Linked DNA regions of Homo sapiens: all the other regions are linked to region 1. The links come from fine-mapping of genetic effects on gene expression. A gene starts in region 1. Each other region holds a variant in brackets. All regions are shown on one strand. Distances are between the middles of the regions. Region 1 holds the start of NHSL2 (NHS like 2). Region 2 overlaps NHSL2 (NHS like 2). Region 3 overlaps NHSL2 (NHS like 2). Region 4 overlaps NHSL2 (NHS like 2).

The links. PIP is the estimated chance that this variant, and not a neighbour inherited with it, causes the effect.
Region 2: its variant is fine-mapped to the expression of NHSL2 in whole blood (TOPMed, PIP 0.94).
Region 3: its variant is fine-mapped to the expression of NHSL2 in whole blood (TOPMed, PIP above 0.99).
Region 4: its variant is fine-mapped to the expression of NHSL2 in whole blood (TOPMed, PIP above 0.99).

The regions. Positions count from the first base shown.
Region 1 is chrX:71,905,907-71,914,011 of GRCh38, reverse strand. NHSL2 (NHS like 2) reads right to left here and starts at 3,167. Exons shown (of 8, transcript NM_001013627.3): 1 at 2,645-3,167. The coding sequence starts at 2,924.
Region 2 is chrX:72,050,742-72,058,846 of GRCh38, reverse strand. All of the region lies in intron 1 of NHSL2 (NHS like 2), which reads right to left. Among named protein-coding and RNA genes, the nearest start is that of RTL5, 77 kb to the left of the region's middle. The variant A/C (reference allele first, on the strand shown) is at 3,753.
Region 3 is chrX:72,120,626-72,128,730 of GRCh38, reverse strand. All of the region lies in intron 1 of NHSL2 (NHS like 2), which reads right to left. RTL5 (retrotransposon Gag like 5) reads left to right here. Exons shown (of 1, transcript NM_001405151.1): 1 at 1-1,621. Among named protein-coding and RNA genes, the nearest start is that of RTL5, 7.2 kb to the left of the region's middle. The variant G/A (reference allele first, on the strand shown) is at 5,044.
Region 4 is chrX:72,102,066-72,110,170 of GRCh38, reverse strand. The region is part of intron 1 of NHSL2 (NHS like 2); the gene reads right to left. Among named protein-coding and RNA genes, the nearest start is that of RTL5, 26 kb to the left of the region's middle. The variant C/T (reference allele first, on the strand shown) is at 4,649.

The DNA.
Region 1 (8,105 bases):
AACAGCCTTCAGTGGAGTGGGTGGGATGTTGCGAGGCAACTAGCCTAGCCCAGTCCACCCCTGTAACCTTGAAGATGGTGGGGGCATGACCCATGATTGTGATTGTGTAGAGAAGCACCTTCAACTTCTTCAGCATCCACTTTCTCCTCCTCTATCTCGCTCCTCCTCTCTCTGTCCTCCCCTGCTGCTTCTCAGGGCCCCAGCCCAGCCTGCAGGCTATAGGCCAGTCTGACTTGCCACTACTCAGTCAGTGGCAGCCAAGTTGTCACTGCAGGGAGGCTATATACTGCTGGCCTGTCAGCTGTCATTCACTCTGGCCATGTTGCTTTCCAACCTTCCTCCCACCTTCCCAGGTTTCTCCTGCCCCATGGTCAAAATAAATAGCTAGAGGAAGAATCTGAGGGCAATCCAGACAGATGGAGGATATGCAGGGTAAAATGCTGACCCCCAGCAAAATGGTCAGTAAGGGAGTGGGAATCCTAGGAGGAAAACGCATAGGGAAGAAAAAAGGGCAAGACATGACAATGTTCATTTATTTACTTACTTACGGTCAAAATCTAATATTCGGCTTGCTAAACACCCTGTTGAAGCTTATGCCTGAGCGACAAGGGAGTGGCCAGATGGTGCACTGATTACGCTCCCCAACTCTCTTTGCATTTGGCACTTATGTTCAGACCATTGCTGAGAAGGCCTAATTTCAGTGCTACCCAATTACAGCTCCTGAAGAGAAAAGTGTGCACTGAGAACTTCAAGGGGAGTCTAGGGTAGGGCATTAGACCAGAAAATGGAAAATCAGACCTTTTCACCAACTTACAGAAGGTAGCTGTGTTCCATTTATGCAGCAGTCCCTTGGGTGCCTCTGAGCCGTGGGACATGTACATTCTCAAAAGCAAGAGGCCACACCAGGGATGAGAGATGGCCACTCTTCCTGCTCTTGAAAACTGCCAAGAAGCCAAACCAGTGGTAATTTAACTTAACAATTGTTCCTCTCCATTGCAAGCTATCCATTGCATAAAGCCATCTCCTTCTAACCTGGCAGATCACCGGAGAGGGTTAGGTCCCAAAGGTGACTTGGTGAAGCCCTGCCTTCCCTCCCACAGAAAGGGCTTGCTAATTCAGTGGACAGGAAGGTAGAGTTGAAAAAACTGTCCTTAACTTACCCTACTGAACTCAGTAGGTGGCTCTCTGCAAACTGTGTAGGGATTTTGAAAACTACTCCTCAAGCTGACTTATCAAATTTCTCCTAGACTAATCCTGTAATCAGTGGGACCCCAGCAAAAAACTGAGCCCCTGCCATGCAGAGGCTCCTGGTCCAACGTCTACATTCCATCTGGCAGTCATCTGTGGCTTCCACCTTTCTTTTCCAATAGGACTCAGTTCATTTATCTCCACCAGAGACCTCTGCCATCTACCTCAGAGGTCAGAGACCTTTATGAAGAGAGGTGCCAGGGCCTGACTCCAGTCCTTCTGGAAGGGGTGGGGATGGGGTGGGGTCTGCAATGAAGAGGGGCTGGCCCAGGCAATTCTTTCCCAAGTTAGCTGGAAGCTTGCACTCAGAAATCAGCCAGCAGTCATCTTCTGCCCCCATTGGAAACTTTCTGGCCACACTGCTCCTTCTCTCCCCAGCTTTCTGGAGGAACCGATTGGCCCTGGTACCTGGCATGCCCCAGCTGTAGTCAGCATTTCCAGCCTACTCAGTCCCCTTGCTTTCAGCAGAAGTCCCACACTCTCAGGGGCACTGCATTTCCACAGACAGAGGATTCCCCGTGTAAAGTGCTGGGATCCAAAACAGTAAAGGACAAGGGCTCGCGTAGCCCCCCTACCCTCTCACACGTCCCGCGTGCTCAGTGAGGGCACCACTGGAACCTGGTTTCTCAGGCATGGCTGATTCCTAAAGTGAATGCGCTTCAGGAAACTGATGATAGTTTCTTTAAATGATTCTCTCCAGCAAATAACAGCCAGACCCTAGCGGTAGTGGGTAGGGGGTCAGCAAAGCCCCGGACATTCTCCCCTCCCCCCTCCCGGCCACTCCCCAGCACAGCGGCCCAAAACGTGCGGAGAGAAGCAAGCGGGAGGACGCTCAGACACTCCTGTGAGTGGGAGCCGCGTCCACGCTCCAGCGGGAAGTTGCACAGGTTTAAAGCCTGTAGGCACCACCGCCGGCTCCTGCCGCCGCGTAGGTTGCGGTCGGCTGCGGCGCGCTTTCTGAAGTGGCCGAGCTCCTAGACAGGAGCAAAGAAGCCAGCGGCTCGGCCATTTAGCTCCCGACGCGGCGATGAGGACGGCGCCGAGGGCCTGGGGCTAGGTGGGCGGGTAGGGGGAGTATCGCCCAAGCCGTCCTGGACCCAGCGCGTCCCCAGCCAAAACCCCAGGAGGCGGCCACCAACCCCAGGGTCGGGAGTCCCAAGGGCACGGGGCCACTCCGGACGGCGCGACCGGGTCCAAGAGCAGGAAGTTCCAGCGGTAGGGCGACCGTGGGGCGGAGGCGGGGGTCGGGGAAATGGGATCCCCTCACTCCCCGAATGGAGGGGAGGGGAGGGGCGGAGAGAGGCGGGGAGAGGGTGGGCACAGCGCTAAGCGCCGACCGGCGCCCCTAGAGGCGGGGTAGACGCGGGGCCGCGAGCCACCGGGGCGCCGTTTTTACCTAGCTCTTCCTCGTCCTCCTCCGGGCCAAGCAGGCGGCAGGGAAGGCGGCGGCGGAGGCGCACGGTGCGCCGGTACAGGCTGTCTGTGCGGCGCCCCAGGGCCAGCAGGTGCCCCTCGAGGTCCTCGAGCAGAGCCAACGAGTGGCCACAGAGGTCGGCGAGCTGCCGGAGCAGGCTGAGCGCTGCCAGGTGGCTCACGTCGCGGAGCTCCGCCAGCTGCTGCGGCGGGTTGCGCGGGCACAGGCGCTGGGGTACCACCGTGCGCCTGTAGAACGGCATCCCGGCCGCGGGCGCGGGCGCAGGGGACCAGTCTGGCGGCGCGGCGGGCTCACCCCGAGCAGCGCCCCTGGCCCGAGCGCCCCTGAGCGGCGGCCCCAGCTCCGGGTGTAGCAGGCCCCTGGGCGCGGGCCGGAGAGCGTGCGGGCGCCAAAGACGACGGGCGGGTAGGCGGGCTGACGGGTTCCTCGCCTAGAGCGCCGGCTCCCCCGGGGCTGCACACTCGCCGGAGCCACCAGTCCCTCTGACTCTGCTTCGCCGGGCTCCTCCTCCTCCTCCCCCCTCCTCCTCCTCTCTTTTCTCCTCCTCCTCCTCCTAGCTCTGCTACTTCGGGATCCCCCCACCCACCTTTTTTTTTTTTCTTCTTTTGCGGTCAGAGATTCGCAGATTAACGCTTGATCCGGGAGAGGGAGAAAGGGAAGTAGGAGTAAAAAGAGCGAGCTGGAGCGTGAAAGAAGGAATGTCTGCGTGAGGGGGGACGTAAGGTACGGTGTAGAATGTGTGCCCCGGTCCTCCTGAGGAGCTCCACTCCCAGTTCTGATGGTTAAAGTTATTTTTTGCTTTTTTTTTTAACTTAAACTTTTTCTTCATAATTACAAAAAAAAAAAAAAAAATTCAAGCACACCCGCGCCCACACCAGCGGGTAATCAGCGAAGACCGACCGAATAGTTTGACTTTATTGATCTAGATTTCCTTTCCCAAACGTACTCGGTGCCACGCACGGGCTAGACTAGGCTGTGAATACAACCTTCTAGCACCCAGGAGCTTGGAAATAAGGACCAAAAAACCAAATATCTTATTCGACTGTTCAAGAAGACAATGTCTCTAGGGAGTCCCACAGTGGCTGGACATTGTAAAGCCATTGGAGTGGATGAATAGAAACAAACCCATTTTCTGGAACAATAGACTTAATTCAGATAGAGGGACGCCACTCCATAGTTTATGCAAAAAGAGAGCCCAGGGACGCCTCCTTCTGGTAGGGTCCGCCAGCTGGGATAGGCTCTATCCCTGGCCAGGCTGGGCTGCTGGGATGCTCTCCGAAGAGGGTTACAGGAGCCGAGATGTGCTTTCAGTGCGGGCAACCCTGTGGTCACGGCCTGATTTCTCTCCATTCCAGAAGGCAGAAAAGAGGGGGCACATTATTGTCCTCAGAAAACCAGAGTACGTGAGCATATGTCCTCATGCACTTAGGACCTTTCCACTCAGAACGCTTATTTTCAACACACTGAGCTCCCATCTGACTCTCCTCTAACCCACTTCTTTGACTTTGGTGTACTTCGGTTTCTTCCTTCTCTTCATTCTCTTCTCATTTTTCCTCTTACAAATGTTCACATCCTTATAATCCTTTATAATCCATTAGCAAAACACTTTTTTTTTTAAGAGACAAGATCTACCACTGTCACCCTGGCTGGAGTGCAGTGGTGTGGTCACAGCTCACTGCAGCCTTGAATTCACTCTGGGCTCAGGGGATCCTCCGGTCTCAGCCTCCTGAGTAGCTAGGGCTATAGGCACGTGCCACCACTCCTGCTAATTTAGTTTTTATTTTTTGAAGAGACGGAATCTCCCTATGTTGCCCAGGCTGGCCTTAAACTCCTTGGCCCCAAGCAATCCTCCTGCCTCAGCCTCCCAAAGCACTGGGATTACAGGCATGAGCCACCACACTGGCCAGTAAAATACTTTGAACAGAATACCTGCATCTACATTAATGATTCTAAGCGTGGCCTGTTTTCATGCATTCCTTCAGATAATTAATTGTCCCTGAAGCAGTTCAAGAAGGTTCTACAACTAGTATATTTCAAAATTGCTAATAGATTCTAAATGTTCACACCACAGAAAAATGGTAAATATGTGAGGTAATGGATATGTTAACTAGTTTGATTTAATCATTCCACAATGTATTAATATATATACATCAAACCACATCGTGCCCCATAAATACATATAATTGTTTGTCAATTAAAAATAAAGTAAAAGCGTAATCCGATTTCCCTTTTCAGCATATAGTTGTTTCTTGTTTAGTAAATTAGAACATGGATATTAGAAAAGTTGGGTTCTGATTAAAATAAGAATCAACAAATGGGCAAAAGACTTGTACCCTTTCTGAAATGTAAAATCCAGTTGCAGAATAAAAACCCCAAATTCTCGATTTGGCAAACTCAAACCTGAGCCAAGAGAGCAACTGGGAGGAAGCAGGGACTTGGCTGGACTCTCCAGGGATACTTTTCCTTGACCTATGAGCTGTTTAGACTGATCTCTGCTCTGGAGAAGAAGAAATGAGGTACGAGCAGATTGAAGGAGACTGTGTGGTCAGAGCTTCACTGCCTGAGCACAGCAGGCCTGGACTGGGCCTGGTCGCTGAGCCTCCCTCACTACTCTGATTCCTGATGCTGATGAATCTTTCAGAGATCTATAATAACAAGCCCAATTCCAAGCAAACCAGCTTTGGCCCTACCCCCTTTCCCCCAGCCTAGTCTGCTCTCACTCCAGCCTCATCAATGAGATGGCCCTGGCTTTCGTCAAGGAAACATCAAGTATTTGCAATGGAGTCACTTCACAGCAGAGTCCCTCCTCCCTTGCCAGGACTAGAGTGGGTCTGCATGTATGATGGAAGAAGCCAAGGGAATATAAGTTGTCACCTTGCTTCTTATCCAGTCTCTTCCCAACAGGAAAGGTGAGACCTCGAATAAGGGGCTGCCTTGGGTTCAAGAGGTGAGCAGAGATGCAGAAAGCCTCAGAGGAAGGAGCGTAGGGAGCCAGGCTCTGGTATGTGGAGGGAAAGTTAGAGTTCTTGAAATACCGTGCTCCAGCCAAGCTGGCTGGGCAGGAAAGCAGCTAGGGTAAAGTGTCCTCTCCTGTGCTCCCACATCACCCTCTAGCACAGTATCTGGCACAGTGTACTGGAGGGTGATATGAACATCCTTGTTTAATAGTAATACTAATATTCCTTTGTAATAATATTGTCTCCCCCACATGATTGTTAGCTGCATGGCAGCAGGAATCACTTCTGTCTTGTTCACTGCTGTATGCCCAGTGCCAAGCCCAGTGACGGGTACACCACAGGTACTCTGAAAATGCCTGCTGAATGAATGAATGAATAAATGGAGGATTATAGGCAGAGCAAGATATGAAGAGCCTTACTAAAGGATTCAACTCAGCCGAAGGGGCTATAGAGAGTCGTTGTGGATTCTGGAGTAGAACATTGCCTGACACAAGGAAGGAAGTGCTTAAGAACTTTTCATGTGGAGGCCAAGGCTGCTACGCCCCACCTGCGCTCACATCTCCAGAGCCAAGTAGCCAGAAAGTGCTCTGTGAATTCAACATTTGCTTTGATTTGCCTATAAACCTTGGCATTTCACATTCAGAAGGAGAGAGAGAAAATGAAGGTGCAAAGAAGAGAAGGGGAGGCCCTTCACAGCCAAGCCAGACCTGAAAGTGCTGGATGCTTCCCACGCACCCACCAACTCCCATGCTCCAGGCCTGCAGCAGTTCATCCTGACACCAGATTTTGGAGTTGCACTCTGAGCCTAAGCCTAAGCCCCTGTGGAATCAGGTATGGATCCGACCTAGAAACAGAGACAGAAGGAGTAGCCAGAGAGGCAGGAGGAAATGGGAGCATTGACCACTCAAGACCAGTAAGGCCTCTGCTTTCCTTCCCATCTCCCAATCTGCCTTCCTAGCTGCTGCTAAGAACCTAGAATTTCAATAAAAATGAACTTGAAAGAATAAATAAGTGACACAGGATATGCCATTTCTCCTTCCTTGAGCTGGCAGTTTCCACAGCTGCAAAATGAAAATTTATGAGCAAACCTCATGTAACCTACCCAGCTTCCCAGTACAGCCCTCAGTCTTATTTCAGGATGAGAAACAAGAAAACTGCCTCCATGTTGCTACCTCTCAAATATGCCAGATAGTAGCAACTTGGTGGCTAAGAAGAGATGTTGGCTTTCTCTTTGATATTCCTCTACAGTCAATTGTTTTATCTAAGTTTTTTTTTTTTTTTTCTGGTTTTAGGGACAACGTCTTGCTATGTTGCCTGGACTGAACTCGAACTACCCAGCTCAAGCAATCCTCCCAAGTAGCTGGAACTACAGGGTCGCACTGTGTTTTATCTAAGTTTTAAGAATATATATTTCACCCCACACCCTCTTGCCATGAGACTCAATAAAAATATATATACAGGCAGTGGGGGTATGAAAAGGCTGCTCATTAATCCTAACTCTAACATTCTGTTCTCTGGTTCTAAGTGTCTGTACCAAGAGAAATTAACAAGAATTGGCAAATACTAGATTGAATCGACTCTCTTTTTAAATGTCATTTACCCTTTTTGGTATAAATGCATGGCTCTGCAGTTAAGAATACAATTAAACTCTCTCTCCTCAGATAGGCAGCCCAGTAGCCCAAAGAAATCGAACTGCCAGCTTTTCAGTCAGATAGAGCCTATAATTCAATTAACAATGCAGACAGTATCAAGGCTAATCAATGCTACACTCTGAAAAGAGAGGGATTTGTGGATTGAGTTTATCTTTATAATGATTATTAACAATTTATCAAAACATATAGAATTAGATAAATTATTAATGAAGCATGCAAAGTTAAAAAAAAAGAGTGGGTACATTGAGTGGATCAGTGCTACAAGATTTGAGAGGAAAGAGCATGCTTCTGCCCTAGAGGCAACAGAGGCTTCGCTGAGTGGGAGGGATGTAACCCCAGAGCTGGGCCTCCAAGGGTGGACTGGAAACTTACATGGCCATCAATCATCTCCTAGGGCAGTAAGCGTGTGAGCCAAAGACGGCTCAGGGTCCTAAAATAAATTCCTTTCAGTCCAGTCTCAATGCTTCACACACATGGGGCAAACCCTTCAAGAATTCCGTGAGGAAATAAACCTTTATTTCAAAAATAAACTTTGACGTTGTTTGAACTTTGACCCTGACTCTGAGCACAGGCTGAGACTTCGAAAAAAGACTTGTGGCGTTATGAAGGAAACTATGGGAGATTTCAGCAGAATGTGAACAAATTCTTTTTCAGTCCCTCATCTTCATGTCCTATGTAGATCCTCCTTCACCACCAATCCCTCACCCGCCACCCAACCGTCATGTTTTACCCGCTCTGTCTTGTTAGGATGAGACTATAATTAGGAACATTCGAATGTTGTTGCATTTAATAGGTAATTTTATCTTAACATGC
Region 2 (8,105 bases), 140 kb before region 1:
CCTGACATGCAGACCAAATCACTCCTGCAATGTGATGGACAAAGACAGTGTCCACTCTCATGCATAGGGCCTTAGCAAGCCAGGTCAGGTAGCAATCCTGGTGTCCTTTACAATGAGGATTTTCTGGACAAGGAACTGGAGAATCCTAACAGATCATAAAGAGTTAAGGGGCAGGCAGAGAAAGCCTTTAAGAACTGGGAAGCTGGCCGGGCACGGTGGCTCACGCCTATAATCCCAGCACTTTGGGATGCCGAGATGGGTGGATCATGAGGTCAATAGATCGAGACCATCCTGGCCAACAAGGGGAAACCCCGTCTCTATGAAAAATACAAAAATTAGCTGGGCGTGGTGGCGCGTGCCTGTAATCCCAGCTACTCGGGACGCTGAGGCAGGAGAATCGCTTGAATCGGGAAGGCGGAGGTTGCAGTGAGCCGAGATTGCATCACTGCACTCCAGCCTGGTGACAGAGTGAGACTCCATCTCAAAAAAAATTAATAACAATTTAAAAAAAAAGAACTGGGAAGCTGTCAAGCCCCTGGTGCCAGAAACAAGTTTTCTAAAATTCTGTTTTTCACTTGAAAGTTCAAGTTTTATCTTTGGTAACAAATACTGTGAGCTGTTTTCCTTGAAGCAACAGGCTCATTTTGTTCATCTTTGAGAAAAATGTCCACCAAATACTCAAGTCTGACTAACCATAGTTTACCTGTCAATTGTTCTTTCAAGTGAAAATGACGTTCCAGGAAAAAGGAGGCCTGTTGAGCTCACACCTCAAACAATTGCACAGTGCTCTTCTCTAGACAACCATCTCACTCAGCATGCAGCAGAAGTGCTTTCTGTGTTCTTCCTGTTTCATCACACAGGATATTAAAAAGACATCAACTCCAGGCTTGAGATTTAATAAAAATTGCCATTTCTTACTGCTTTATCTAAGCTACTTTTCAGTAAGATTGGTGGCTTTTCCCCCCTTTTTCTGAGTATGTAGTGGTGAAAAATACAAAATACAATGACTGCTAGTACAGGCTGGTGCCACTGCCTTGATTCACACTAAGGTGGCAACAGTTTTGCAAATGGTGCAAAAATCAACCTCATGAAAAAGGCAAATAGTGTCCTAGTGTTATCGTAGAAACAGCTCTGACCTTGAGCATCCTCCAAAAGAGTCTCAGAAACTCTGAGGGGTCTGTGAATTGTACTCTGAAAATCTCTGGTTTAGAGAAATTCTTGCCCAGGTCCCTAGGAGCAAGTCGAGGAAGGTTCATTGCAGCATTATTTGTGGTCATGGACAGTTGGCAGAACCAAGATGTACAGTCTCAGAGGAAGGGAGAAGTAAAATGTGGTGGATGAGTGCCAAGTCAGACAGAAGTGATCAACGAGATGTGCACATAGCAGCACCGAAAGGCCTCAAAACAGAGGGTTGAGGGAAAAAAGAAACAGAATATGATCTATGGATCAATACTATTTATGTAAATTAAAAGCACATAAACACAGAAAACACTATGTAATTTTCAAAGACATTTCCAACAGCATGTATCAAACCATTAAAGAGGAACTGGGAGTGGAGATTAGAGATGAAAGGAAAAATAAGATAAAAAAATTTAAGGACCTTGCATGGATAGATAATGGTGTGCACAACAGTATACTTAACTGTGCCCTTGAATGCAAACAAGGACAGAATGAATGGGAGGCAGAAAATAAAGTACCTTTTCAAGAGGCTTGATGGCAGAAAGAAAGGGGATTGCTAGAGAGAGAGGTTCACAGAGAGAAGTGGGCAGGGATGTCTGGCTTTGCCTTCTAGCAATCTACCCAACGTGCTCCAGCCTGGGTTCCCAATGGCCTCCTGGTGTCTGAAGTTCACAGAATCAGGCCCTGGTAGGGAAGGGCACTGAAGGACTCCATACTTGCTGGCTCCCAATTTCTCTGGGAAGTAAGAGATGATATCATCGTCTAAAAGTAGGAGATGGTAGGTAGTCCGGCCTCAAGAGCCAGGGAAGGCGTAAAGCAGCTGCCATAGAGACCAGACAAAAGTAAAAGTATTTGTAGGCAGCACTGATGGCTCAGCTGGAGATTGAGGGAAGTCTGGGATGGATGGGAGGGAAATTGAAGAATTGAATGCCTGGTGGCCTTGATTTTTCATTCATTTCTTCAGCCAGTCCATTGGTCAACAAATATAATATTTATTATCTATTACATACCAAGGTACTTGGGATACCAATAAGGAGTAAAACAGGCTTAGTTTCCATCCTCATGGACATGCCAGTCTGTGTGTGAGCGTGTGTGTGTGTGTGTGTGTGTGTGTGCGCAGACGTTAAATAAGCACACAAATACATATATTATGAAGCAATAACAACTGCAATGAATAAAGGGTACAGGGTGCTGAGAGAGTATATTGGTGAGGCTTGATATAGTCTAGGAGGCCTGTTGGTAAATAGACACTTCCATCTTTGTTTTCAACAGCTGCATAATGCCCCACTATATGGATGCTCCATAGTTTACATAACCAGTCACCTACTGTAGGGAACACAGAATTTTCTCCCTTTCTCTTTACATCATAACCAATGTTTTGATGCACATCTTTGTACATGCATCTCTAGCACTCGTTTGATTATTCCCTTAGTATGCATTTCTAAGAGTAGAATTGCCACATCAAAGGATGTATACATTTTTAGGCCTTTTGAAACATATTGCCCAACTGTCCTGCAGAAAGGAGGTACTGATTTACATGGGAAAATGTCCGCTTTTAAAAAAAGGGTTAATGGTGGCCAAATCTAGGTGGTAATAATTCCGTAAAAAATTTTAAAGGCTGCATAGTATTCCATGGTTATTTACACGATTTTTTTCTATTTTGCCATTACAAAAAAAGCAATTTACTTATTTAACAACAACAATAACAAAAGTGGAAAGTTTTGATAAAAGAAACCACCTACCAAGGTTAGAATATGCTTTCATCTGTTCAAGTAATATGCTAGGTGATAGGACTAAAAAGGTGACATCTTTTTTAGAATCTCCAGTAAAGAAGTAGATTTTTAGTCTCAAGGTTCGGAACATTTGCGTTTCTGTTAAGCAGTTGATTTGCTTTTATCTATGAATCTTATAACTGATCATACCTCCCTTTTTGTTATCTGCCATGAAAGGTTAAAGTCAAATTTGGGACCCACATTTATCAAGAGGGGACTTCCTGAAATTCACTTTCTATCACGACTTCTTCACAAGTTACCCTTGTTTTCTCTCTGCCTCATCTTCCTCCCTTACATCTAATTTAGGTTCTCTCCAAGTATAGGATGTATCTTATAAGCCACCTTAAACCCTTTTTGGAATAAGTCAAGGTGGAAATAATTTTTTACAAAAATTAAGCTAAATGCTCAGATCTCCCTCCAACACAGTCCTCAAGAGGCATAGGCAAGACACAAACAGAAAGATGCCTCAAGAAAACAACAAAAACCTAATTGGAGGTCAATCGATTTCTGGGCTACATGCGTCAAAGCTGAGGTCTTCAGCTTCCAAACACGCAAAGTAATTTAGCGCTCGCGTTCCCATGGCAACCGTGCCAGTGATGGAGAAGATGCAGCAAGCCCGGCCTGGCGGTTGCTGGGGAACTCGGGCTGTTGGCTGCGTGACTTTGCTCAAGTCTGAGTGTTTAGATGCGCAGGGACTTTCCATTAACTGGGAGCTCTGGATTCGGACCTAACTGAAAATGTAGTTGCTGAGGAGAGGTGAAAAGTGTACACTGGAAATGGAGTGACATCTAGGTAGCCTCC[A/C]ATACTTGAAGTTAGTTAGCACTTTCCTTTTTCTCTTTCTCTCCCCGCTTGCTAAAGAAGGGGGTTAGGAAGCGGGAGACGGGACAACAGGCAAAGGGATCCACCCCAAGCTGTCCTTTTACAAAGGGGCTGAAAGAGTGACGGGGGAAAGGGTGATCTCATTAGCATATTTAAAGCTCCAGCCTAATGACTGCTTTGTGCCTCAACTGAAGAAAAATTGTGCTAACTGCAGGGGGAGGGGCATCATGGAGGCTAGAAAAGGGGATCCCAAAAGAACTCAAATGGGGTGAGGTCGATGAATGTCATCCTCGCCACTTGGGGAGAATATAGATGAGTATTTATTTGGTCTGGGAGGAGGCAAGACTTTCTAAGCATTAAAATCACAAAGGAAAATGTCAACATATTTGGCAGCATCATTTAAAAAAATGTTAGCACATCCCAAAGCACAACAAACCAAAAATCAAAGAGAAAATAGCAAATTGGGAAAGAAAAAGATATTTGCAGCATAGGACAGAAAAGGGTTAATATCTTTACTATATAAAGAGCTTTAAGTAACAAACTCTTTACCAATAAGTAAACAGACACACATATTTTACTTTTCTAATCAAGAAAAAACCAACTCTATTTCAGAAGAGAGAGAAAGAGTCCAGAAGAGCATGTCATTCTCTGAAAGGGAAGCTATTAAGAACGACAGAATGCGGATCAGCTCAGACAACAGCTAAAGTGGCCCAGGGAAGAGTTTGAAAATGTTCTGCTTATTGCACTGGAGAGATGGGAGTGGAGATTGGGGGGTTTCCTAAAGCTTACTGCACCAATCAAAAAGCAATCATTTTGGAACAACCTGTCAAAATAGTACTGGAACCTGTCATTGACATATGCAAGCAGGAAGGCTCTACTTCCCACCCACACAGTGTAGACAGAGGAGTATGGCAGAGAAAGCGTTGCAGCATCTCCTTGGAAGAGAGGGCTATGGAGTATCCCTGGCACCTACAGCAGAGCTGGCCCAGAGTAAGCAGGTGTTCAGTGAGGCCTTGTTGAAGAGTTGTGAGGTTCTCTTCATGATGGCCAAGTCCTTAGGTGGAGTCCTTGGTTCCAAGCAGCCTTCAAGGAACTCACCCACTCTCTTTGAGACCCCACCAAGGAGCTCGCTGTGAGTGTCTATCCCAAGCTCAGGTTCTGGGAAGGAGAAGCAGACTTATTCTGTGTTGCTGTAGATGGTAGGAGTATTAATTTCTTCCACAAACATTGCTTGAGGCCAATTATGTGCTGGGAATGAGATGGGGGTGGAGGAGTGGACCCCAAAATGAGGAGCGTATTACAAACAGTTCCCAGTCTATTGGGAGAGACAACATGTAACTTATGAAAGAAGCAGCTTTTGAGATGGGCTTTGAAGGTTGGGTAGGAGGTCAGCACGCAGAGATGTAGTCAGACAGCATACAAAAATTGGAACTGAAGGCAAAGACATGTGCATGGCGAGATGATCCCTCGGGCCCTTTTCTGTTCTGCCAGTCTACGATTCTGAACTTCAGCCTCATTCTCAGCAATAATATCTCTGTGAAATCATGGATTTCACAGGTATGCTGGTTATACTTTTCTCTCATATATAGAAAAATAAATATGCAAGCATTCAAGTAAAAAGAAAAGTTCATCTGTACCTCTTGAAGGCATTTCAATTAGTGTGGTGGAGTTTACACAGTTCTAGGAAACTGTGCCAGAGGTCATAAGGAGTTATGGAGCGTCCTGTCCCCAGAATGGAGAAGATTGGAGGTGGAGAGAATGGAGACAGGCAAACTGGTCAGGCGACTGTCGCAAGAATCCAGTGAGAGGATGGGCCCCCTAACTTCTCAGAAGAAATGGCTGAGAAGCCTGGGGTGCGCGGGGTGAAGCAGCTGATTAGACCAGAGAGAAGGCTCCTAATTCCTGGTTTGCTGCACTCAAATCCTAACGAGGCAAGGCTCACATTCAATTCTGGTCATTATGTTCTTCTCAACATTGTTTTCCATTTCCCTTACCCAATTTAGGATGTATTGTTATGGCTGTTTAAATAAGGTGCCAATCCGACTGGGCAAGAGCAGGAAATGTTTCCACACAGGAAAGACTCTCATCAGATCCCTATTGCCTTTTGCAAATGGAAATCAAGCCTCCTTCTACAGAGGGCATGAGGGCTGAGTCACAGCTGCACCGTTAACATATTAGTAACACAGAAAATCCTCCTTTTCTGTTAGCAGCTTGGCCAGAGAATGTCTACAGAGGGGCTGGGGGGAGCAGAGGGTGAAGAAAGGGGTGGAGAGAGGGATGGCTCAGGAGAGGCCCCCACCTACCCTTTTCATTTGCAACCTGGAGGGGGTCTTCCCTTCCCAAACACAGGAAGATGACTCATTTAAAAACCACCAGGGTGGTCAGCCTAAGTTGGATAGACCAGGCGAGAGTGTCGTGTGCTCCTGGAGGAATGAGAGGGACATGGGGGAAGCTGGACTGGAAGAGGAAGGAATGGGGAGGACTGCAATGTAGCCAGGTCCTTACTCCATCTCCTCCCTCATCCCCAAGCCCATCTCTTTCAGTTGAGACCCTTTGCCTTGTTCCAGAAATCATGTGGCCTCCCAGGCAACTCCCAGGGCGGTTGGCCTGAAGGTCACAGGCTCCTGGCCTCTTGGCACCTCTGTGACTTATCTGAAATATGGTTCTCCTCCTTCAACTGTCCAAGACTTTTAATGCCCGACCTGCCATGCAAGCAAGCTCGCCCTGAGGCCCCTAGTTGGTGCCAGGCACTGGGGACAGAAACTAGGAATTGAGCATCCAGTCAGACAGGTGTGCCTCGGAGGACTGAGGAGGGCAACTTTCTCAGAGGATGATAACCACGCATGTCACCCTTCACCCCATCACATTGGAAGTGCCACAAAGCCAGGAGCCTCATCTGGCTCAGCCACCACTCAGCACCTAGTGCAGAGTAGGTATGTAATACACATTTGTTTAGTTTGTTGAAGGAATTCTAAGCAACAAAGGAAAACGAGATCCATTTTGGTTACACTTACTTTCCAAGCAAAAGAGTCAAGAGGCTTTATGTCTGATTTGTATAAGCTGCTGGGATAAATACTATAATAGAGAAATAAATGCTATATAAAGTACAGTGGGAGCTGAGAGGGGGACTCTGCCTGGAGTTATCTGGAGAGGCTTCCAAGAAAGCTGTCATTGAGGCAAGTTGTGAGAAATGAATGAGGTTTTCCTAGGTGGAAGTGAACACTGAGACTAGGTGTAGAGAATGGTGGCAGGACCAGAGGTGTGCAGGCAACAGGTGGGGACATGTTGGAGAGAGACCCGCAAGTGGAAGAATCTGGAGGAACCAAAGACTTCCTGAGTGTGTGCTGAGGGCAGGCAGCAGGAGATGATGTTGGAAAGGTTGCCTGGATCCATCTGTGGAGGGCCTTAAATTCCAGCCAGAGGAGTAGATCGGGAACATGTTGTGGAGAAGGAAACCTTAAATAGGGTTGATCTGGCAGTGAGGTAGGAGAAGCAAGAGGAAGGAGGGCTGGATAGGAGATGATCACCTGGTATGACAGTGTCTAGGAAACTCGGTCACTGTGAGAACAGAGTGGGAGGGCCTAGGGTGAAATGTTGATGGGGCTGTAGAGAAACAGATTCTCTCAGATATTTCTGGCAGAACTGTGCATCGGTATAGCCATCTGAAAGAGCGATTTTGCAATATCTACAGATACCCCTCAACTCAGCAATTTGACTTCTTTCTAGGTACATACAACTGAAAATTTCTGTACATGCATGGGGAAATATCTACAAGAATGTTCATTGTAACATAGTTGGTAATGGTAAAAAATAGAAATAATCTAAGTGTCTATCAGTAGTGGATTAAGAAATCAATTTTATTATTCATCTGATGGAATACTATATAGCAGTTAACATGAACAAACTACATCTATGGGTGTAAAAGGGACAGATACCAAAAAACATAACACTGAGTGAAGAAAGCACATTTTAGAGTTACTTCATGTAGTATAATAGCACTTATGACAAATTTTAAAAGTGCAAAACCAAATAGTACATACCATTTATGGATGCATAAACATAGCCTGGATTTGCATCACAGCCCAGACAATAAAAAATAGGACTGAGGAGGAGAATGCAGGGACGTCGGTGGCATCTGTAACGTGGTTTTGGTTTGGTTTGGTTTTTGTTTTGTTTTTTTTTTTTTGATAGATGGAGTCTTGCTCTGTCACCCAGGCTGGAGTACAGTGACGCAACCTCAGCTCACTGCAATCTCTGCCTCCCGGGTTCAAGCAATTCTCCTGCCTCAGCCTCCTGAGTAGCTGGGATTACAGGCGTGTGACACCACACCTAACT
Region 3 (8,105 bases), 210 kb before region 1:
CTGAGCTCCCTTCAATTTCAAGGAACCCTTAGTTCTGAGAGGAGAGAGGAAGGCTGCACCTACCGTGGCCTCACAGCTGGGACCCCTCATGGGGGCCAACCCCTGGCCTGCTGCTGTGCTTCAGTGACACAGTAAAGCTTAAGAGGGTGGCTGCCTCCTAGGAACTCCTGGGACTTCTAGGTACAAACTCAGGTGCCCTTATAAAGAGACCCACTGCTTGCCTTGAGTCCAGAAAGCACTGCTTCTGCAGTGAAAAACACACACTTACTATGTCAGTTTTGGCCATAAAATGCCAGCCAAATCCACTGCTGGCCTGAACTGCCCCTGGACACTGGACTTTCTGCACAGTGACTGGCAGCAGAGCAAGTGCAGCCAGGGTTTGTGGCCAAAGGGAAGAAAGCATAGTAAATTCAACCTCTGTTCCTCATGGGAGTCTGACCGATAATCTCAGGCGGACCTTAGGATCTTGGGCCTGGAGGCAAGAGAAAAAAGCTGGAGGAAGAGGAGTCGCAGAGAAACCCAGTCCTCTGACTGGTTTCTGGTGAGGTCTCTATTCATCAGTGGGAGGTAAGATGCCCTTTTCATTAGCGCTTTTGTTTCTCAGCCTGGGGATCAGTGGATTTGGATTCCTATAACCTGTTGCTACCTTTTAAAAAGATCCCCTCTCTCCAAAGAGAAAAGTAATACATAATCATTAAAGAAAGTTTGGAAAATAGAGAAAACTATGAGGACAAAAACCCCCCAGCCATTCAGAGTCCCACCACACAGAGGCAAGCACTATTAACACTTTGCTGCTTTCCTTTCTAGTGTGTTCTTGCTATGTCTTGTCAAAGCTGAGATCACCCTGCCAGTTCTTGATCAGCAGGATTTAAAATGGCTGCCACCTGTGCAGTCATGCATACTGAATAATTCATTTAAGCATTCTCCTAATTTGTTGGACCTTTCAATTGTCTGGTTTTCCCCATCCCCACCAGGGCAGGAGTAAACAACTTTGTAAAGAAAATTTTGTCTGTTTTTCAGCTGATTTTATCTGATTTCCTCAAGAGTGCATTCCAGAAGGGGACCTGCTATTCTTCGAGGGGACCTGCTATTCTTCGAGGCAGTGGACCCTGTTTGCTGATGGTCAACACTCTGGCCCTGCTGCCCCATGTCCCTGTGGAGAAGTGTGAAGGACGGGTGCCTTAAACCCACACTTCCAGGGACCCTTCAGCACAGGTCCTGCCTGTTCCCATGGTGCTTCTCACCCTGAACCCTCAGAGCTACAGCCAGGGATAGAGCAGATGAGCAGTGAGCTGGTTTCCACCCTCTGGGGCAGGAGGGGCTTGGGCTTCCCTTTGACCCTCTTCCTTCCTTTCCCAGATCTTCAATATTTGTTGTGATGTAACAGCCATAAGAGCTGTAAGAGGAACTGTGGGCTTTGGGAGCTTTCTTGGGTTGAAAGAGGGGTGGGGGGAGGGGATGCATGCAGGGGTATGAAGGCAGCCCAAGGTCTCCCAGAGGCTCGGGAGGAAACCCTTTTGGAATACATGTGTTATTGTTGCATTACTGTGTTGTGAAGATAAGAAGCTGCTCTGTATGCTAAAGCTTTCTCTCCTCAATAAAAATATAAAGGGTGTGTAAAGATTGTGCCTCTTTGTTATTGAGCAAGCATAGATGGGTACAGAGTAGGCATAGGGTACTTCCAAGGTCCCCTGCCGGAGTCAACCCTACCCTGAAGTCTTGAAATCCTTAGACAAGGAAACCAAGGGCCGGTGAGGCTCAAGGGACCTGTCTACAGTTCTGTGCATTTGTGGATGGAAGAAATTGTTGGGAGGGAAGTGGAAGCACTGGGCATCTTGAAAAATAGCATTCGTTCTCCCGGGGACTATGGGTGGCCCAGCCCTACAGGCACGCACGGGCATGCATGGGACTTTGAGTGAAGGAAGAGAAAGAGGCCAGGTTGGCTGGGGAGGGCCCTTCCGCTTTTTGGCACTAGGTGGCGCTATGGGATACCAGTGAGTTAGCTGGTGATGAATCACAAGTCCCCAGAGCAGTCCATGTAAGAGGCCCTCCAAGCAAGATCTCATGGCTCCTCACGGACTGTGGGGTCAGAAGAAACTGAATCCCATTCTGGGATTTGCCCAAGTTTCCCAGCATGAATTGGACTTTTTTTTTTTTCCAGGGGAAGTGGGTGGGAACATTCATTAAGCCTCTGCTGCTTTTGAGTGCTGTGCCAGGCACTTCACATCTGTTATCTTATTTCATTCTGATAATGATATCCTGGGGGGAAAGAACTAACTACCCTTACCCTCATCTTAAAGATGAGGACACTGAGGCTTAGAGAGAAGTCACTGGCCCAAGGTTGACAGCTAGTGAGTGGCTCTGTCACAGCCCTGCAGCTGCCCATTAGCTCTGGGGACACTTAGCACCTCTCTGCCCCCACTCCGCTGGCCCTGCTGTCTAACAGGCCAGGCTGGTCTCCTAGTTCTGCCCTGTCCTACCCCCCCTGCCTCCAGCTTGCAGGATTCCCGTGGGGGAAACAAACCCTGGTTTCAGAGGCACATTTGCTTTGTCCCTTTAAGAGGAAGGGAGGGAGGGAGGAAACCATGGTATTTCTGACCATGTGCCAGGGACTTTCGCCAACATCATTTCATCTCCACAATTAAGTGAGGCAGGTGATGCTGTCTCCTTTTAGAGCTGAGGGACCTGAATCTCAGAGATATTAGGTCATATGGGGGACTCCAGGTCTTCGTGACTCCCAAACCCATATACATTCTTAACTCAAATACACCGTGCTTGCTATCTCCCAGGAGAGACTCCTGACAAGCTTGAAGTCTCAACCTGCCTGGATTCTGGGTCTTTGCCAAAGCAACGAAGCACGCATCAGGTGCACCATCTCTGGAAGCTCTGGGGGAACCAGCCAGGTGGCAGTTCTAAGTATGTGGTTGACTGCCCCTTCTAGGGAGGAACAGGGTTATGGGGTCGTGGGCTTCATCAGTGAGCACTAGGACTCCCCAGTACTCTTCAGGGTGCCTGACAAGGTCTCCAGCACCCAGGGGATTTCTTATGACATCACAAGTAGTGATAGGTGAGCCCAGATTGTGTTATGGCCAGAGAAGGTGGAAAAAAAGACAAACAGAGTCAGCCTTGCCCCAACCCTGAAGCAGGAAGCACTGTGGGAATGGGGAAAAGAACCCTGGATTCCAGTCCAGCCTTGCTGCTGACTCTATATGGGCTCTGGCATGAGTCTCATCCCCTCTCGGGCCATGGCTTCTTGATCTGTCTAGTCACTGTTGAGTCCCTGGGGCCCAGCACACTACTTGGTACACAGTAGAATCTCAATCCTAGTTTGGTACATAAATGAAGAAGTGAGTGAATAAATGGGCCACTGGATGGAGACCTAGAGGCAGCCTGCTAAGGGCATCTGCAGGTGGTACAAAGCTTGGAGGACTAGAAGATGTCCTCTAATGTCCTCTAAAAGGGAATGAGGGGCCAAAAAACTCTCCCTAACCTGGAAGGATGCACTGAAATGACCTTTACTAGGGGCTCATCTGAGATCCTGCAGTCAGGTTCAGAAAAGCAACTGCAGAAGCCTAAGTGGGGGAGATGTGGCTTAGAAGAAGCTTGTGAAAATGAAAATCTGAGGATGTGAATTGACAGGAGATCGGTCAGAATCACAGACTGACCTGGCTGTCAGATGCGCCAATGCTTTCCTGGGCTGCTGCAATAGCAATGTGAAATCCTTGAGATGGGCAGGGCCCACCTGGGGCCCTGGCTGCCCTGTGGAAGGGGACAAAGTTGCACCTCACAGAAGCCCTTTGGCTTGCCAGGAGTAAGAAAACATCAGAATAAAAGGAAGGAAGGAAGGAAGGAAGACAGTAGAAGGGTGACAAGGATGGCGAGGGTCCTAAAAACCCTCTCCTGGGCTGAGCGATGGAGGAAGGCAAGGAAAATCTTGCTGCCTGTGAAACAGCTGTGACTTCCCCACGTTCATTCTGTAAGTGAGGAAACCAATCAGGCAAGTGGCTTGAGGTCACTTGCCCTGTTTGCCGAGTTTGACTGTGAACCCCAGCAGTTTGACATCCAGAGCCCATGCTCTTAACCTCTACTCCCCACCTGCACCCACGCCGTTGGAAACAAAATCTCCAGGAATGTCTACATCTAGAAAGCTCCCTAGGCAATTCTAACATCCAACACAGCCCAGCCTAGAGCAGCATAGAGCTTTGGGAACTAACTAGCCCGTGTGACATTTAATGGCCAGTTTGGTTCTGAGCCTTCCCCTAGAGCTCCCTGGAGCAAGAACCGACCCACAGATCCAGTTCTAGCACAAAGTAAGTGATCAAGAAACATAGCATGCGTGACGATCCCTCAGCAGGTACCATGGTCTGATGTGAGCTTGCCCCTCCTGGATACCTGCCTCAGACAGCAGGTGACACCCATTTGAGAGAGATGTGCCACAAGGTAGGTGCAGAATTCTGCCCCCGAGAAACCAGGTCCATAGGAGCCAAAGCCTGTGCCCTTGACCGCCAGAAGTGGCTCCTGAGGGTGGGGGTGGACTCTTCCAGGGGATAAGGACAGGCATTAATCAGGCAAGAGACCACCCCCTTAATGGGAGGTGGGGAGTGGGCTCCACCTCCGGCCAGCACTTCCTGTATCCTGCCCAGACTAGGGAAAGCTCGGCAGGCCACTTCTCCCCAGGGACTCCAAAGACAGAAACACAAATACCAGGGCTCTCGGTTGCCCTGGTAACAGCGGGACCTACTTGGAAGAAAACAGTTTCTTAAAGGCTTAGGAGGGTGGATATTTCCTTTGACAGAGAGCAGGCCCTGACCTGCTCCCTGTGTCCCCTCTCCCCTTCCTGCCTGCCACACATGGGGTAGAGCGGGGCCCCTCGCCTCAGCAACTCTCCTGATGGGGGGTGGGGGTGGTGTGTTTGTGTGGGAAAGTAGGGCCCAGGCTTTTTATTCTGCTCTTGCAGTGGGCTGTTCGGGTGAGAAAGAGGCTAAAAGGGAAGATGTCAGCAGGTGAACTCATGGCGAAGGTCCCACGGCCTGGGGAAGCCTT[G/A]CCTTGTAGGATCTCCTCACATGACCAAGCTAGAGAAGGGCGGGTGCCTCCAGCGACTGTGGTCTCCTTCACCTCTTGCATCATACAGATGAGGCCTGTTGGCTGTGAGGCTTGCCAGAAAGAGTGTCCCCAAATTGATGACCTCTCCACCCACAGTTCAGCCCTTCCTCCTCTCTCACCTGAGCTACTGAAGCAGGCTCTAGTCTCTACCTGTTCTAATAGGTCCACCTTCAACATGCCTGGGGGTGGGGGCCGTGGGCCTTTGAATTCACACACCTGGCCTTGCTGCTCCTCTACAAAACCCCTCAATGGCTCTCCTTCCTCGTGGGAAGACTTGTAGACCTGCTTTTGGCATTTTCTTCCCTATCTGCTCATTAATTATCTATGCCATCTCATCTGCCTATGCTATCCTTCTTTCCTCTTCTACTTAGCCCAAATTTCAGACATCTTGAATTACTTCCTGCTTTTCTGTACATACGAGGCCCTTGCATGCCTCTGGGCCTTTGCACACTCCATTCCCTTTCCCTTAAAAATTCATGAACATTCCTGGCCTCACTCCAACTGGCAATGTTCTCCTCAGTTCCAAGACCACTTCCTCCGCGAAACTGCCTCCACTCCCCAGACAAGCCCCTGCCCTTCTGAGTTCCCCTCAGGCCCTCTAACCCCGACCCCACTGGCCTGTGAGGCTTGAGATCTACTTGGGAGCAGAGGCTGGTCCATGACTCCAAAGTGAATTTGTTACTGCAAGACTGTGGTTCAGTGGGAGAACATGGACTTGTCCTCTTTGCAGATGAAGGCTGCATTGGCAATGGCCTTTGGAAAGAGGACTGGCCCCCTGAGACCTGACTGAGGACTGATGGTATGCACGTGGAGCTAGGAGCCCCCCAGATAAGGTTGGAGGTGTGGACAGTAGGGAAAGCAGGGGAGACAAAGCAGGAACTTGCAGAGTTGCTCCTTCCCAGCGAGCACCCTGTTGATGGCTTCCATTTCTCTGAGGGACATCACCTCCTCTCAGTAGTGTGCTAAAGAGTGACCTCCACTGGGCTTGAGAGTCACATAGACCTGGCTTTGAACCCTGGCTCTGCCACTCCCTTGCTGTGTTCCCTTGACTTAGTAATTTCACTTTTCTAAGCCCCAGTTTCCTTTTTCTGAAAATTGAGATAATAATAGCATATATTAATGAGATGATTGATATAAACCAGCAATAACAACAAAAATAGCTAATAGTGCTTACCGTGTATTGGGCATTAAGTGGTTTACATTTCTTAACCCATTGAATCATCACAACCCTATAAGGTAGGTAGTGTTATTGTTCTGCCTTTTGCAGATTAAGAAACTAGGCACAGAAAGTTTCTCCTGACCAGTGTCACAGCACTAACATGCAAGTGCTTTTGACCCCTCCAGTAAGATAGGCAAAGTTCTGTGGATCAGAAGTGAGGCCCATGGAGCAGGAGAGTTCCAAGATCCAGGGCAGGGTCTTGGTCTTTTTTTAGGTAATGGACGCTTTTGGTAGTTTGGTGAAACCTCCGGATTCCTTCTCAGAATAATGTTTTCACGTGCATAAAATAAAATACATAGAATCACAAAGGCAAACAATCATACCGAAATGGTTAGAAAAATATTTTTTAAATTTTGTGATCTAGTTGTGTTACTACTTTCATAATGCGCTAAATCACAAGATTTAGTGGCAATTCTATAGATTAGAAATGTTGAAGTGGTGATGAACACAAATGATTTTTTGAGATACTTACAACAACAGTAATGTGATATGAAAATATTTGTGATTTCTGTTGGTGATAAAGTCACAGATACCGCTAACACTACTGTGGTTTGTCACTTACATTCCTAATTTGAGAAAATGCTAAATTGTTGTTTGAGGTTCATGGAGAAAAGATCAACTAATCTTCCCATCCAAGTTTGTAGACCCTCTAAATTCTCTCCACACACCCCTTGGAGGTCCATGGAGCTCAAGTTAAGAAGCCCTGCCCTAGGGTGTCAGAGAAAAGACAATGGCAGCGCTGTCAGCTACGGGGACAAGCTGGGGGCTGGCAGAAAGACAAGTGTGTGGTTTCTTTTTCAAGAACTGTTTACAGAAATTGTGAAGTCTGGCAGCTCCCTCTTCCTCTTGGTCCTGAGTCAGCAGCCCAGGGTGGGGCTGAGGCGGTCACACTTGGTTTGAGTTTCAAGCTCACTACATACTCATCCCAAAGAGTTGATTTGTTGCCATTTCCTTACCATGGAAATGTTGGTGGGCTTTGCTCCATTTTAAAATGGGGACCTGCTTGCACACACAGATTTTTCATTAGTCTGGAAATAATCTTTAAGTGGACATGTGGCTCTAAGACATCTTCAGAACTAATGAATGTTTCCACACTAGCACCCTAGCCAGGCTTAGGGCTTGCAGAGGGAAGGGGAAAGATGACCAACTGGGCCAGGGACCCCAAAACACTAGCCAGAATTAGCACTTGCCCAAAATCCCCAATTCTTTTTCCTGACTTCCTGACTTTACCGTCTGTCAGCTGAGTCCCTGCCAAATAGAGAAGCACAGTCCTGGGTGCCGTGACCAAGGAGACATATGGCCCAAACAGCAGTAGGCCTCTGCTTTTCTAACTTGCCTCTGTTCCCATTCAAGACTCAAAGCGAGTGGCACTCACGAAGAGCAGGCCCCAGGCGTATCCACAATGCCTTGCGTGGGGGTCCTGGCTGGCCAGGGCCTGCTGCCTTCTGCTCTTCCCCAGGCCCTCATATTTAGTCACAAATGAGCAACACTTGGCTGGTGGCCATATACTAAAAGGGCTGCAGCTTAATTTCCACAGTGAGAGGGTAGAATTTTGACAGCCTCATGCACCATAGCCACTGGCTAATAAAGAAGCTGGTTCAGAATGAATCTGCCTCAGTTAGCTGAGGAGACATAACAATATGCTTTGGAGGTTCAGGCTGAGAGCTCCACATGCAGGAGTGTAGAAAAGACTCATTTTCTTGACTGTAAAAGACATATATGTATGTTCTTAGGTTGGCCAAGGCTCTCAAGTATAGGCAGAAGGAGGCGGAGGGCCAAACGG
Region 4 (8,105 bases), 200 kb before region 1:
GCTGCTGCTGCTGGTCTTCATACCTCACTTTGAGCAGCAAGGATCTAGGCAACTAAGAAGCTGGTGGAGAAAATATGGGACCAGAGAAAAGCACTTCACCCCTCTGTTCCCGGCATCCTTGGGGTGATGCCCCGTCCTGTGGGTTTTGGCTGCATCTCCTACTGGAATGGGGTGACTTTCTCATTGAGCAGAGAACTCTGCTTTGCTTTCTGAAGAACTTCTCTAACTCTGTGGAGTTTTTAATAAATAAGAATGAAAAGGTGGAACAACCAGGGTGTTTAACAACCCCAGCTGAGAGGCCACCAGAATTGCTTCAATTCCTTTCTGGGGAAGTTTAAGTTAGCCATATAAAGCAGCACACGGAAGGACAGAGCCCCAGCCTTTCTCAATGAAGACCCTGCCTGGGCCAGGTGAGGTGGCTCATGCCTGTAATCCCAGCACTTTGGGAGGCTGAGGCGGGCGGATCATGAGGTCAGGAGTTCGAGACCAGCCTGGCCAACATAGTGAAACCCCGTCTCTACTAAAAATACAAAAATTAGCCAGGCATGGTGGTGCCACCTGTAATCCCAGCTTCTTGGGAGGCTGAGGCAGGAGAATGGCTTGAACCTGGGAGGCGGAGGTTGCAGTGAGCCGAGATCGCGCCATTGCACTCAATCCCAGGCGACAGTATGAGACTCTGTCTCCCAAACAAACAAACAAACAACAACAAAACCTGCCTGAATGCACACTTTGGAGCAATGTGTTTAGGGGGGCCAGCATAAGTCAAGAGTCAAGTTCCAGTTCCAGCTCTGTTTCTTCCTAAGCCCTGTGACCTTGGGCAAGTCAAGTCACCTCCCAGTGCCTCATCTATAAAATGGGAATAACAATCACACTTAATTCACAGGGTTGTTTTGAAGATTAAACGAATTAATGTTTGTAAAGTGCCTGACACACAGCAGGTACCAAAATAGCTCATTCATTCAACAAATACTTAGCCCTTTCTGTGTACTGGGCCCATAAGCTTGGGGAATACAACAGTGAACAGGACAGACACAGTCCATGCCCTCACGGAGTTCACACTAAAGCAGAGGAGATCTGAATGATAAGAAGGAACCAGCCGCACAAAGAGAAAAAGAGCACACTTGGCAGGGGAAACAGCAAATGCAAAGGCCCTGGGGTGGAAAAGGATGACTGAAAGGAGCCAGTGTATGTGCGATGTATGAGGGGAGCATGGCAAGAAAAGATGTCACAGAGGTGGTCAGGGGCCATATTACTTCAGAGTCTTATGGGCTGCGGTCAGGAATTGGGGTTTGATGCTCGACATACCTGAAAGCTGTTGGAGGGTCTATGGTCTGGGGCGGGGAAGGGAACTGTGTGGTGTGACCTGACTGCTCTCCTTCACTGCCTACAGTGCCGGCAACCTGGGCTCAGCGTTTCCTTCTTCCCTGCCGGACCCGCATGTCCTCAAATTTCTGGAACTAGAAAGCCCATCCAAGGCCTCGGGATTTCACGTCTAGATGCTCACTGGAGAAATGTGTGGGATGCACACACTACTAGCCTGCTGCAGTTTGCTCAGGCTGCTCTGTGTGCAGAAGGTCTCTGTGCTCAGTGACCACTCTTCTGGTCCCGCCCCCAGGCAGCAGAGCGAAGGCTCTGGAGCAGACGATGTGGGTTCAAATCCTGGCTCTGTCGCTTATCAGCTGTGTGACCCTGGGAGATTCACGTTGCCTCTATGGGCCTCTGTTTCCTCATCTGTAAAATGACGTAAGAATAGTAACTACTTCCTAGGGAAGTTGTGATGACGCAGTGAGTGAATGTGAAGGCAACACTTCAGCCTGGCACCTAGGAAGTGCTGCACGAAGCCTGTGGACAGGCAGAAGTTTGGTGTCTTTGACTTTGAGGCTGGGGTGAGTTAATGTAAGGGCAAGTACTGCAAATGCTCCAGAACCCTTAACAAAGGGCAGCTACTGCCATGGCTAGGATAACACTGCACACCACTGTGCCACTGGGTCCCGGTTTTTACTTTCCACCTTGAGGAATCACCAAGACCTGTCAATCTGACCTCCTAACTCCCTCTCAAATCTGTTCCTTCTCCCACTCACTGGCACCTCTCCAAATCAAAGCCCTGTTACTTCTCACCTAAACAATTACAAGAACCTCCTACCTGCTGCTCTTCCTCCCTCAGATCTTGCTCTCTTACGATCCAGCCTCCACGGGGCCAAGAGAGTCATCTTCTAGACACACACAAGTCATATCAGCTCTTCCCTCTGCCTCAAAACCATCAGGATAAAATGCCAGTTCCTCAGGCTGGCTGACAGGGTCTTCCCATTCTGGCCCCTGCCTCTTCTCCGCTTCACATGCGCCACTTCCTTTAGGAGCACCATTCATCAGCTGAATTGTTCCTTTGCTCTAGAATGCCGTTCTCCCACCCCTGCCCTCTTTTCCACCTAGTAGAAGTCTACCCTTGCTCCTAGAGTCTCTATGACATTGTCCCAACTTCGCTTTTCCTCATGGGTTGTTCCTTCCTCCAACACCCCCCCGGGACTCTGTCTTCTGTCTGTTGGTGCACATGAGTCGTCCTCCCCACGAGATGGTGAGCCCTGAGGGCAGAGGAGACAGCAGAGCAGAGCAATGACATCATCTATCATTGTGTAACCTCAGCACCCAGCTTAGCCAAATCAAGGGCTCATGAGCACAAACACTGGCAGGGCCCAGGCAGGTAACACCAAAGAGAGAAGCAGGCTAAATGGGCCCTGCCGTGAACCGTGGAACTCCCTGCCTACCCACAAGGGGGCCAAACCCCTTAGTATTAGCTGATTCATCCATTGGGACCAGATCTTAAGATTTTTTAAGAAAGTGCATTGGGAACTAACTTACATTATTTATTTATTGTTTATTTATTTATTTATTTATTTAATTTTTTTGTATTTTTAGTAGAGACGGGGTTTCACCGTGTTAGCCAGGATGGTCTCCATCTCCTGACCTCGTGATCCACCCACCTCGGCCTCCCAAAGTGCTAGGATTACAGGCATGAGCCACCGCGCCCGGCCTTTTAAAAAATTTTATTTATTTATTTTTTATTATACTCTGAGTTCTAGGGTACATGTGTGCAATGTGCAGGTTTGTTACATAGGTACACATGTGCCATGTTGGTTTGCTGCACCCATCAACTCGTCATTTACATTAGGTATTTCTCCTAATGCTATCCCTCCCCCAGCCCCCACCCCCCGACAAGCCCCGGTGTGTGATGTTCCCCCTTCCTGTGTCCATGTGTTCTCGTTGTTCAACTCCCACCTATGTGTGAGAACATGCAGTGTTTGGTTTTCTGTCCTTGTGATAGTTTGCTGAGAATGATGATTTCCAGCCTCATCCATGTCCCTGCAAAGGACATGAACTCATTTGTTTTTATGGCTGCACAGTATTCCATAGTGTGTATGTGCCACATTTTCTTAATCCAGTCTATCATTGATGGATATTTGGGTTGGTTTCAAGTCTGCTATTGTGAATAGTGCCACAATAAACATATCTGTGTGTGTGTCTTTATAGTAGCATGATTTATAATCCTCTGGGTATATACCCAGTAATGGGATGGCTGGGTCAAATGGTATTTCTAGTTCTAGATCCCTGAGGAATCGCCACACTGTCTTCCACAATGGTTGAACTAATTTACACTCCCACCAACAGTGTAAATGCATTCCTATTTCTCCACATCCTCCCCAGCATCTGTTGTTTCCTGACTTTTTAATGATCGCCATTCTAACTGGCATGAGATGGTATTTGTTTATTTATTTTTAAGCTGCACTTCTGAGTGTGGAAAATTCGTTTTTTAAACCATGCAGAACAAAAAAACCTGAACTTCAGGCCACACTTGGTCTTTCAGCCTATCATCTTGCAAACTCAGAACCTTTGTGTGTGTATGTGTGTGTGTGTGTGTGTGTGTAATGAGGGAATGAATGAATGAATTCAAGTTTCTTTTTTTTTTTTAGACAGAGTCTTGCTGTCGCCCAGGCTGGAGTGCAGTGGCGCGATCTCGGCTCACTGCAGGCTCTGCCCCCCCGGGGTTCACGCCATTCTCCTGCCTCAGCCTCCTGAGTAGCTGGGACTACAGGCACCCGCCACCTCGCCCGGCTAATGTTTTGTATTTTTAGTAGAGACGGGGTTTCACTGTGCTAGCCAGGATGGTCTCGATCTCCTGACCTCATGATCTGCCCGCCTCAGCCTCCCAAAGTGCTGGGATTACAGGCGTGAGCCACCGCGCCCGGCCTCATGGATTCAAGTTTCCTAGAGCTACTGTAAATTTCAAAGGTTTGGGGGAAATTACACGTAGTCAGTTCAGTTGCTATTTGGTTTGATTTTTTGGCGTAAGGACATGAACGTCAAAATCGAAAGTCAAGTTTTTATATTTCTCTCTTTAAAAATGAAGCCCAACCTTCTTTCACCTGGTGGCTATAACAGTATTGCATTTCCTGGGTAGCTCACAGGCCTTGTGAGCAGACCTGTAACCTCAACTGTGGTGACATCCCTCTTTGAGATGCAGGTCACCCCAGAAGGAAGGGAGGGATGTGAAAGCCACAGAGACTGTTTCCATGGTGGCTGATTTGCTTAGTTTGGTAACCTCTTATAAACAAACTGTGCAGAAGATGACAACGGCACGGTTCCCTCCAACTTC[C/T]GCCTACCTCATCCCACTTATCTTAGCCCCAAGTGAGAGAGGTTGGGGGAAAGACTGAGGACTCTGAATTACAGGCATCAAGGACTCAAATTCCTTTTAGGTCCTGACTCCCTGTCCCTGGGACTCCTATACCTGGCTTTGGGCTGCAGGGAGGGACTTGCCCAGAGGCCTGCAGGGTGGGAGGGAGCCAGTTGCATTTCCTGAGTGACTAGAACACCAGACCTTGAGCTGCTTGATCCCCCATTCAGGACCAAGGCACTCAGTCCCCCAGCTACCAGAGGTGTTGGTCCATGGCTCACGGTTGAGTCTCTTCTCCAAGGTAACAACCCCTTTCCTGGGGGGCAGCCTGCATCCAAGATCTCGTTAATAGATGGGGTGGGGTGGGAGGTGGGGGAAGAAAGGCCCAGCTGCCTGGCCTCAACTGGGGCCATCTGAAGAGCATCTCAGCTCCAGAGCTTCCCATGTTATCAACTGAGGTCTCCAGTGTGCCCACACTGCAGGTGAACTCCTGTCTCTGACCGATCCTGCTCCCTCACAGGTGCTGTTCTAGAAGGCAGTTCCCAACAAACCTTTTGCAGGCAAATCAATATCTCCAAATCTGTTTCTTGGAGATGCCAGCCTATGACAATTCCCTGCCTTGGCCTCTTTTCTCTCCCTGCCTTTTCTTCCTTGTTGAGCACAATCACTCCAAACGCCCCAAGATCATCTCAGAGGATGATCCTCAACTCTTTCCTGTTGCCACAGCCACTCTCCCAGTCTGCCCACTTGCATTTCTCAGAGCCTGGTGGACATCTTCACCTGGATACCCACTTTTTTAGTCTCAAATTTAATATACTTAAAATAGAACCTCTCCTGCTATCCTAATCCACTCTTCCTCCTGACTTCTGTATTTCTGTTAATGAATCCCAGGCTGGAGACCTCAGCGTCACCTTGGGCAACCTCCTGCTCAGAAACCTTTAGCATCCCCTCAATGTGAGCAGAACACATGCCCATGCTCCTTATCTTCATACTCAAGGCCTTCCTTGTTGACTCAAATGAGGCCGATTTCCTGACAACCCTCTAATCCAGGATTTCTTAACAGTTTAATGGCTTGGACTCCATCAGGAGCCTAATGAAACTTATGGGCCTCTACTTGGAATGTTTCTACAAGCACAAAATAAAATACATAGGATTACAAAGGAAGTCAATTGCATTTAAAGTTATCTATATATGTCTTAAAATTTGCAACATAGTAATATGCATTTCGTTATTAACACATTAAGTAACATGAGCTAGTGGCGGGTCCAGTGACTGCCATGATTTTGAAGTAGTCGTGAATGGGACAGTAATTTAAGGCACCTGCAGCAGCAGTAATGAGATATAAAAACATCTGTGGCTCCTGTTCGAGACAAAGTCACAGGCTAATGCCACTGTGATGTGTGGCCTGTGTTCATAATGGAAGGAAAGCTAACTTTCAATTACAGGTTAATGAAGACAAAGTTATAATTTTTTTCTCATTTAAGTAAATGAACTCCTGGTCAAGCACTTCTGTGCTATGGGGAGTCCACATTGTAGCTCAAATTGGATATTCACACTTCCCTGAATGAATGTCACGCATCCCACATCCATCCTGGCTGATGCTGGAAACTGGTACTCGGGCACTGGGTCAAGTCGGCCTCACTCTCCACATGGACCTTCTGCCACAGGCTGGCCAGGGCTTGGGGCTAAGAGCTGTGCAGAGCACTGCCTGCCCATGGGCAGCCCTGGGAGGGTATCTTCTCTGGCTTTTCTCCTCTCAAGTCCCAGGCCCTGTCTGAGTGAATTTACATGTTTCTGATGGCCCAACCAAGATTACCCAGTCAGTTGGCTCATGGGGTAGTGCACAGCCATCAAGCTAGTTGTAGAGCATCTAGTTGAAGATGCCTTCACCAAGGTGCCATTTGGAGCTGTGAAGAGGCCACTACTCTGCTTGGATCCTTCTCCTGAACCTTGGACCTGGGACTCATCCAGCTCTACTCTTACCTTGCTACCAGATTCTAAATGTTCTGCAATGCATGGGACTGTCCTGTACAATGAAGAATTGTCTTACCCACAAGGGCCATGATGCCCTCGGTGAGAAACACTGCTTAGGAAGTTTATAACTGTTTGTTTAGTGCTTCAGTAGTCCTTGGCCTGGGGTGCCAGCAACGGAGGCAGAGCAAATCTGTGGGCACTTCTCTGGACTCTTCCCAGTCCCCTCTGGCCTGAAATCCCAGTGACCTTTACATCTAGGATTGGGATTGAGGGAGCGATGCATAATATGGTGAGAACCTTCCCCCACTCCCTCCACTGTGGCCACTGCAGCTATCAGTTCCAAATCCAAGCTTTCCCAGGCGTGGGACTTTGCTAGGTCAAGAGGAGCTACCTGGGCTTGATAGCTGCCACTAGGGAGGGAAAAGTTGGCAAGAAGCTGTTTTTAGTTTCCTCCAGATGTCTGCTGGCCTAGGACCCTTTGGCTCTGTCCCCCGGGAAGGAATGTTTGTCCTAGGCAGCCTCTGCTTTGCTACTGGAGCTAGGGAGTGGGTACTCCCATCTGGGGCAAGAGAATGTGCCAACTCCTACTGTGCTTTTGCGGGTTAATCATTTCCAGGTAGGAGCTGTCACGAGTCACCCTGGTGTTCACCTCCATTGCTTTCCATGAACCAGTCTAGTTTCCTAAAAATACCTGCTCCCTATTTCCCAGGCCAAAATGCTCCAGGAAATGCCTGCAGCCCACGATTGTCAGATAAGTGGCTTCTTCTGTTAGTTTGACCTGTATTCTGATGAAAGGGATTACTAATACTGCAAGAAACAATATTCTGTGACTTACAAATTATATCTGTTAAGAATAATGAATACTTATATAGGGCTATTTATTATACTTTATAGTTTATAAAGGCTACTTTATATATTAGGTTGAACCATACAAATTTGCTGGCATTTAAATGCTTTGGACAGTTTCATAGGATTCAACCTAACACATTTTCTCATTTATTCCTCACCATAATGCTGGGTAGGTATTTTTAGCCCCATTTTACAGAGTAGAGTACTAAATCTTAAGAGTGGTGAAATGACTTTTGACTAAGATTATATATACAGGAAATAGCAGGGTTGAGACTTGAACTAAGTCTGTCTGATGCCAACTCTCATGCTCTTGGTTCTCGAGGTAGGATGATTCAGCCTGGAAGACCACTGCAAGGCTTCGAGACTCCTAGACTACCCTCAGGAATCCCCTGGCTGGTTTCTCTTGTCACCTTTTCTTAGTGGGAGAGATCAGCAGGTGCATAGATGCCTGCAAATAGAAGGTTCTAAAGTGATGAGGTGACAAGTTCTAGTTTTAAGGCTTTGGGAGCCCTGAGGAGGTACAACAAAGACAATATCCAAAGCATGTTAATTCACCCATGCATTTATCCGTCCAAGAGAATGCTACTGGGTAGCTCCCATGCACGTGACAGGCTCT